Regions from separate parts of the Homo sapiens genome. Here region 1 is linked to region 2. The links come from fine-mapping of genetic effects on gene expression. A gene starts in region 2. The other region holds a variant in brackets. All regions are shown on one strand. Distances are from middle to middle. Region 1 overlaps FRMD3 (FERM domain containing 3). Region 2 holds the start of KIF27 (kinesin family member 27).

Region 1 (4,393 bases), 590 kb before region 2:
GGAGTGCTCTCAAGACTTGCCCTTCAGCAGGGCTTGGGACTTTAGCACTCAGCGACTGCAGGGAGCTGTCTATGCTTTATAGCATTCATGTGGAATGTGGGCTGGAGAGAGATTCCTTTGCTCTTCAGTGTCATCCCTGGCTCTCTGGACTTTAGAAGACTTTTCTCCTCCCTGTCATCCTGCCTCCTGCCGTCAGCAAGGGCTTCCCCACCCAGGCTGAAGGTCTGGAGTGCCTCTAGGGGATTTCACTCAGCTCTCATGCTGGTTAAAAGTTTGCCTAGTTGCCCTTAGCCCTGACCTAGGGTGTAATCCTTCTCTTCCTGTCACTCCACCAGAAGTGAAAGCAGCTATGCGTTTCCACTCTCCTAAGAAAGACATTCTGGATTTTAATACATTCAGATCGATTTGCATCTTCAGCTCTCAGATGGGTTCAAAAAATATGATTTTGTAATTTAGCCAGCTTGTTGGTGTTATTTTGGTGTTAGGAGAGATCAATATCTCATGCCTTTCTACATCCTAAATGGAAAGGAAATGAGAGTTCCCAGTCTGTCATTTCCAATCTTTCACTTAGAGAGGGACATTATCTCTCGCAAATCCTTTTAGGAGCCATCTTTATGCAGAGCATTAGATAAAATGCTGCAAATTTGGACAGCTGCCACGCTATGAAAGAGACAGTGGTAACACCCTGGGGCCATGCAGGGACAAGGCTTATAGGAGAGCAGCAACTTAGAAAGATATTAGTGCACAATGCACGGAAACTCAAATTTCAGGTCAAGTTCTATTGCTTCATAATTGTGTAGCCTTGGATAAGTTAATTTCTCAGAACTCTGTTTCCTTATCTGTAAAAAAAAAAAAAAATGGTGGCTGCAAACTCAATGGAAGGAGAAGGTAAGTTGGCAGAGCAGGGATGGTGGCAATTCAGAGACAAAGGATTCTTTTAAAGAGGCACTGCTGCTGAGTGTTGCCACACAGAAGTCAGGGAGCCATGTGACCAAAACCCCAGTCGCAACTGAAGCCAGAACTTTATGGCAACTGGTTCCATTTTTTACAGCTATTATTTGGCTCAAACTACATACATCTGGGTCACAGTGTAGTCCAAGGACTGTCATTTTATAACTACTGCTTTGGACTCCAAGGATCCCTTAAGCATAGAAATTGGCTGTCAAATTTCTTTGCTGTTGGCTAGTGACCTCTTGATAGTCGAAGGCGCTAAATGATAGTCAAAACTGTCTTTGACTAATAAAAATTAGGAGGCAAATTAATTGTTGCTTCATGAATTATTTTGTAGATAAAATCTTTCAAACCATGAGGTCATAGGGGAGTGTGGATGATGAAGGAGACCCCAGCTTGGGGATGAAATGGCCGAAAATCTGGGCTAGGCCATCCCACACTACTACAGTGCCCCACAAAAGGCTGCTCTTCGATAAATATTAGTGGTATGAATGGATGGATGGAAAGATGCATGGATGGATGGATGAAATATAAATGGATAGAAGGATGGATAAATATCCTCTGGATAAATTCACTGTTATAGTCTCATTGAAAGTTCAAAGAATCTTTAGCTCTATGCATAAGTTAGAATCACATGTGAGATATAATCAGACAATGTATTAAGTAATGGCTGACTCCTACTTTCAATAATATAACCCTCTCTCCTTCTTCATGGCCACATTGCACTTTGGTAACATTGCTTTTTCCCCCTTAAGGTCATCGTAGCTAGATTTCACCTGTATAAAAAACATGAATGGCTTGGACATGCACACCACTTGCCCCAGCCCATCCCTCCCTAGAAATGTCCTTTACCCTAGGCCACAAAATGCCAGGACTTCATTTTTACAGTGAACGCATTTGATCCCAAATCATCCCATCTTCCCCCTTCCTAAGAAAGGTGCTATACCAAATAGCAACAAAAAATGCAAATTGATTTGATAATCTACCAGGGAGAGAGATTCTATGAGTTTGGAAGGGACTTGGGAAGGGAAATGATACAGGGAGAGAGATCGATGACAAAGAGAAAACTCATCTTAAGAAAGATTGGGGTTGTAAAATAACCAGACATTTATTTCTTGTCTTCTTTTTACACAATAAACACACTTCTCAAAACTGACAAAAACATTTCTTAAGAGGGCCCTTGTGATCTATTCATCAGAAGCAAAGGTAGAGGATATTTTTCATGTCAGGGTATTTGTTTCTAGAAACCTAGACGTTTTTAAAATGATAACTCCATTTTTTTAAACTATAGCCATGGCGCATGATTTACAGAGAATATAACCTTTAAGAAATAGAGATAATTACTCTGTTTAAAAAACACACTGTGTCATTCTTGCTTCTAGCACAAACCTCACTGCCCCGGATCATTATAGTGTGGCTAGTTGGATGATTTTCCTGCTCTTCAAGGGCAAGGAATATACTTCATCAAAACTGCTTTACTGCCAATTGAGCCTTTTGAATATTTAAAAGCTGATGACCTATGACTGAAGTTAATGCAAATGTCTCTGTCTCTAATGACAAACCTGATGAACTGGTGATGAGAGGAAGAAAAGACTAGC[T/C]GAGTAGAAACTCTAGGAAATACCTCCAGCAAAGTCTATCAGGGTTCTTTATGGTAAAAGCAATCTTATTCTTGATCTTAAACCCCTTCCGAGCACCCTCAGGACTAACGGAATGGGTATTTCCTCTTACCCCAGGTGGCTTTGATTAAAGCTGTGGAAAACAGAAACCAAGAGGGACAAAAAGAACAGAGGACTGGCGAGGCATGGTGGCTCACACCTATAATCCCAGCACTTTGGGAGGCAGAGGCGGGTGGATCACCTGAGGTTGGGAGTTTGAGACCAGCCTGACCAACATGGAGAAACCCCGTCTTTACCAAAAATACAAAATTAGCCCGGCAGGGTGGCGCATGCCTGTAGTCCCAGCTACTCCGGAGGCTGAGGCAGGAGAATTGCTTGAACCCAGGAGGTGGAGGTTGCGGTGCGCAAAACTCCATCTCAAAAAAAAAAAAACAAAAAAAACAGAGGACCATCAAGTCCTCAGGGGTTGCAGCAATGGCTTCCTCCAGTCACCAGAGGGCTCTAGAGGGAGGAATAACCTATTTCTAAATCAGTCCTCATCTCTGCACACCAAGCTTAAAGTCTGAAAATTACAAGAGATTATTTTTCACACATAGTTTTACAAACAAATATGGCTCCTGATAACTTAAAATTATCTACAGAGGCAGGAGAGTGAAGTAGAAATTGATTCCATACCTGGTCTGCCATGTGTTTAGAACAGGAGTCAGCAAGCTAGGACCCATAGGCCAAATGTGGCCTGCCACCTGTGTTGTCAATAAAGTTTTATTGAATCATGGCCCACTCATTTAAGAATTGTCTATATCTGCTTTTGCTTTACCAAAACAGAGCTGAGTCACTGCACTAGAGACCGTATGACCCAGAAAGCCAAAAATATTTAACTAGCCCTTACCTAGAAGAATCATTCGGCTCAGTGGGTTATGTAAGTGACACATCTCCATATCATCTAGTTCACATGATATTAAAAGGCCCAAAGATGCCTGTATAAAAATCTTTCTAAATGCAACTCTATTAGCTAGAATGACCAAAATCCAGAACACTAACAACACCAAATGTTGGCAAGGATGTGGAGCAACAGGAACTCTCATTCCCTGCTGGTGGGAATGCGAAATGCTACAGCCACTTTGGAAAATAGTGTGGTGGTTTCTTATAAAACTAAACATACTCTTACCATATGATAGAGCAATCATGGTGTTTGGTATTTACCCAAATGAGTTGAAAACTTATGTCTACACAAAAACCTACACACAGTTATTTATAGCAGCCTTATTCATAATTGCTCAAACTTGGAAGCAACCAAGATGTCTTTCAGCAGGTAAATGGATAAATTATGATACATACAGACAATGGAATATTATTTTATGCCAAAAGGAAATGAGCTCTTAAACCAAGAAAAGACATGGAGGAAACTTAAATGCATATTACTGAGTGAAAGAAGCCAATCTGAAAAGACTACACATTGTATGATTCCAACTATGACATTCTGGGTAAGGCAAAAGCTATAGAGACAGTAAAAAGATCAGCGGTTGCCAGGGGTTAGGGGAGAAGGAGGGATGATTTTTAGGACAGGGAAACTACTCTGTATGATACTATAATGGTATTGGTATTGCAATGGAATGATACTATACATTCATCAAACCCATAGAGTGTACACCAAGAGTGAACTCTAATGTAAACTATCAACTATGAGTGATTATAATGTATCAATGTAGGCTCATCGGTTGTAATACATGTACCACTCTAGGAAGGATATTGATAATGAGGGAGGCTATGCATGTGTGGGAAAGGGGTATAGAGGAAATCTCTGTGCCTTCCTTTCAATTTTGCTG
Region 2 (4,393 bases):
ATATTCACTACCCTTGAAAAAAAAAAAACCATGGCCCAGCACGGTGGTTCACATCTGTAATCCCAGCACTTTGGGAGGCCAGGGCGGGTGGATCACTTGAGCCCAGGAGTTCGAGACCAGCCTGGGCAACATGGAGAAACCCTGTCTCTACTAAAAATACAAAAATTAGGCAGGCATGGTGGCGTGCGCCTGTAATCCCAGCTACTCAGAAGGCTGAAGCGAGAGGATCCCTCCTGAAAACAAAACAAAACAAATGTGAGCCACGATGCCCAGCCTCATTTCTTGGGGTTTTTAATGGTAATATCTATAAAGAATTTGGTTATAAAGGCAACTGAAACTTATTCTAAGCATTAAAAAAAATAATAATGGGGCCGGGCACAGTGGTTCACACCTGTAATCCCAGCACTTTGGGAGGCCAAGGCAGGTGGATCGCTTCAGCCCACGAGTTCCAGACCAGCCTGGGCAACATGGTGAAACCCTGTCTCTACTAAAAATACAAGAATGTGCCAGGCTGTGGTGACGCACCTGTAGTCCCAGCTACTTGGGAGGCTGAGATTGGAGGATCGCTTGAGCCCGGGAGGTTGAGGCTGCAGTGTGCCACTGCACTCCAGCCTGAGTAACAGAGCGAGACCCTGTCTCAAAACAAAACAAACAAACAATAGTAATGGTCCACAAACATAGGGCTTGTAAAACATCAATATACAAGAAATAAAGTTTTTACACAATCCATAGCACTTATACTTCAGATTCTGATCAATTATAGTCATCAGAAACATACGTATTATGTTGCCAATAAATGATTTAAAAAAAAGCAAAATCTGATTGGTCGTATTTAAGTATACTCAACGGGTTTTTGAAATCTGAGCAAAGGCAAGAGAAATATTGAATCCCTCATGTCATGTCACTGGTCAGGAATGAGTGTCTCCAAAAACCGTTGCCATCCCGTACCCTTGATTTCCCAGAAAGCAGTGGTTGTCTTAAATGTGTGGTTTGTTAATTATTTTCATAAAAAACTTGCCAGTAGATGGACAGTAAATCGCATACGGAGCTCAGAAAAGGCCCCAAATGCGTAAAGACGACAAAAGAGTAAAGAAGGGCAAACAACAAGGATTTTCAACACTGGAGACTTAAAAGGTGTTACTTAAAAGGTGTTTCAAAGAAAGAATCTGGGCGCTTTGCTCTTTATAGTCACCTGCCTCCGAGGGAGGGAGCTCTCGGGCTTGAATGTGCCCAAGGTTCAACCTCTACGGTAGGAAATGCGCCCAAGTTTCAACCTCTACGGTGGGAAATGCGCCCAAGTTTCAACCTCTACGGTGGGAAATGCGCCCAAGTTTCAACCTCTACGGTGGGAAAAAGACGCCTGCGATAAAACAAAGCGCTCGGTGGTGGTGGCCCTCGCGTCGCACCTCACGCCGTGCAGCGACACGAGACGAACACAGGGTGCGCTCTGAAAGGCCGGGTCCCGCGTTCCGGTCGATCGGTGTTCCCCGGGACCCGCTCCTCAGGGCTGACCCAACTTCCTCCGGAAGGGGCGCTCTGCCTCTAGTCGCTCGCCGGCTCCCAGCCCCGACCCCAGACCCCTCGGACGCCCCCATAGGCCTAGCTGGCGCCCCAACCGCCCACCCTCCGCTACCCACCCGCGGCGGCCCCGACCCCAAGCCGGAGCCTACTAGTCCCAACGGCCGGCTGGGGGCGCGGGAGCGGCGGGCGCGGCGGGCTGGAGGGCGGGCACCGCGAAGGGAGGGCGCCCCACTTCCCCGCACCGCCCGCCAGGCCCGCCGAGCACTGACCGGCTCGGGACAGCCCAGGCCCCTGTCGGCGAGCGCTGGACTCCTCAGCTTCGCTCTGCCACACCGCGCAGCCGCCGTCCGCGTCTTTTGTTGTCGCGAGTTCTCCTGGCAACCGGCGAAGCCCGCCTCCCGCCGCGTCCTCTCCTGGATGCCGCGTCCTGGCCCCGCCCCCATCCTGGCCACGCCTCCAAGCCCGCCGCGCAGGAGTCCTGCGTCCCCAGGAAGTCCGCAAAGGGCCGGCCCCTGGGCTTGCCTGCAAATCCGAGTTGTGTCCCACCAACGCGCTGGGACCGGTCTGTGAGGCCTGAGCGCAAGCATCTTTCTACGGGTTCGTGAAATGAGTGAGAACGATTCCACACCGTGTTTCAATATCTTAGCTACCAATTCAGTTTATTTTTATTTTTATTGAGTAAAACTTGCCTAACATAAACCATCTTAAAACTCACAATTCAGTGGCGTTTAATGCATTCACAGTGTTGTGCAACCATCACCTCTGTATATAGTTCAGAAACATTTTCATAACCCCAAAAGAAAATCCCCAAACCAGTTAGCAGTCATTCCTTCTGGTTCCCCTCTCCCCACAACCCCAGCCAGCCACTAATCTACTTTCTGACTCTGTGATAGCTTTACCTATTCTGGGCATTTCTTTATTGATGGAATCATTCAGTATATGACCTTTTGTGTCTAGCTTCTTTTGCTTAATGTTTTCAAGATGCAGTCATGTTGTAACATCTATCAGGACTTCTTTTCTTTTTTTTCTTTTCTTTTTTTTGAGACCGAGTCGCGCTCTGTCGCCCAAGCTGGAGTGCAGTGGCGTGATCTCGGCTCTCTGCAACCTCCACCTCCCGGGTTCAAGCGATTCTCCTGCCTTAGCCTCCCGAGTAGCTGGGATTACAGGCGCGTGCCACCACGCCCGGCTAATTTTTTGTATTTTTAGTAGAGACGGGGTTTGTTTCACTGTGTTAGCCAGGATGGTCTTGATCTCCTGACCTCGTGATCTGCCCGCCTCGGCCTTCCAAAGTGCTGGGATTACAGGCGTGAGCCACCACGCCCGGCCCTTTAGATGGAGTTTCGCTCTTATTGCCCAGGCTGGAATGCAATGGCGCCATCTAGGCTCAACGCAACCTCCACCTCATGGGTTCAAGCGATTCTCCTGCCTCAGCCTCCGGAGTAGCTGGGATTACAGGCATGAGCCACCCTGCCCGGCCCTATCAGGACTTTTTAGGGCTGAAAAAATTCCATTGTATGGATATAGACATACCACATTTTGTTTATCCATTCTTCAGCTGGTGGTGGACATTTGGGCTGTTTCCATGCTGCTATGGACATTCACATACAATATTTGGATGTCTGTTTTCAGTTCCTTTTTTTTTTTTGAGATGGAGTCTCGCTCTGTTGCCCAGGCTGGAGTGCAGTGGCGCTATCTCAACTCACTGCAAGCTCCGCCTCATGGGTTCAAGCAATTCTCCTGCCTCAGCCTCTGGAGTAGCTGGGATTACAGGCATGTGCCACCACCACGCCTGGCTAAGTTTTCTGTATTTTTAGTAGAGACGGGGTTTCACCATGTTGGTCAGGCTGGGCTCGAACTCCCGACCTCAGGTGATCCGCCCACCTTGGCCTCCCAAAGTGCTGGGATTATAGGCGTGAGCCACCGCGCCGAGCCTGTTTTCAGGTCTTTTAGGTATGGACGTAAGAGTGGAATTGCTGGGTCGTATGGTAATATTTAACTTTACCAATTTAGTTTTAAATGCTTTAATGCCTCCTGTTTTTAGTAGCACAATCTAAGCATCTTCAAAAACCCTTCCTTCTCTCATGAAATATAGGAATGAAGGTGGGGGAAAAAAGCTGACTATTTTATTTATAGTTTTTATTTTTTTTTCTTTTAACTGAATTATTTAAAATTTTAAAAATTCAGTCTGGGCACAGTGGCTCACACCTGTAATCTCAGCACTTTGGGAGGCTGAACTGGGAGGGTCACTTGAGCCCAGGAGTTTGAGACCAGCCTGGGCAACATAATGAGACCCCCCATCCCTACAAAAAATCAAAACTTAGCCAGGTGTGGCTGAGTATGCCTGCAGTTCCAGTTACTCTGGAGGTGGAGGTGAGAGAATGGTTTGAGCCTGGGAGGTCAAGGCTGCAGTGAGCTGTTGTTGCACCATGGCATTGCAGCCTGGGTGACAGAATGAGACTCTACCTCAAAAAAATAATAAATAATACATAATTTTTAAAATTCTAAGATTTCATTTATACACATACCTGTGTATTGAGTCATGATGTCAAGGGAATGTCTGATAGTGGCTCAGTATCAATCAAATGCGAAAGCCAGTGTCCTGGGCTTGCTTTTCAGATTGGGGTGATGGATTATTTCCTAGTCTTCCAAGGTTCCCCTCATGATTGGTGGAGATTGTGGTTGCCCAATTTGACTATAGGGCCAAGTTGCATTTTTAGAACTCTTTGAAAACAAACAAAAACTCACATCATGACTGTGAATTGGTAAGTCAGACTGGTCTGCTGACAAAACTTCAATAATTAATAGTACGTAACAATTTAAGTCTAGGAATACCCAGAAGTCTCAACAGAAGTTCTCAAGAGGCCACACAATT

Evidence for each region. PIP is the estimated chance that this variant, and not a neighbour inherited with it, causes the effect. A credible set is the group of variants that fine-mapping cannot tell apart.
Region 1: its variant is the best candidate, but not a certain one, in a credible set for the expression of KIF27 in monocytes after Pam3CSK4 (Quach 2016, PIP 0.74).

Annotation. Positions count from the first base shown.
Region 1 is chr9:83,327,339-83,331,731 of GRCh38, forward strand. All of the region lies in intron 6 of FRMD3 (FERM domain containing 3), which reads right to left. Among named protein-coding and RNA genes, the nearest start is that of FRMD3-AS1, 110 kb to the left of the region's middle. The variant T/C (reference allele first, on the strand shown) is at 2,550.
Region 2 is chr9:83,919,581-83,923,973 of GRCh38, forward strand. It overlaps KIF27 (kinesin family member 27), which reads right to left and starts at 1,852. Exons shown (of 18, transcript NM_017576.4): 1 at 1,791-1,852. LOC105376335 (serine/arginine repetitive matrix protein 1-like) reads left to right here and starts at 1,321. Exons shown (of 3, transcript XM_011519284.2): 1 at 1,321-1,681; 2 at 1,774-2,118. The coding sequence starts at 1,321. RefSeq lists enhancers at 1,384-2,133, 2,748-3,252 and silencers at 1,455-1,834, 1,865-2,014.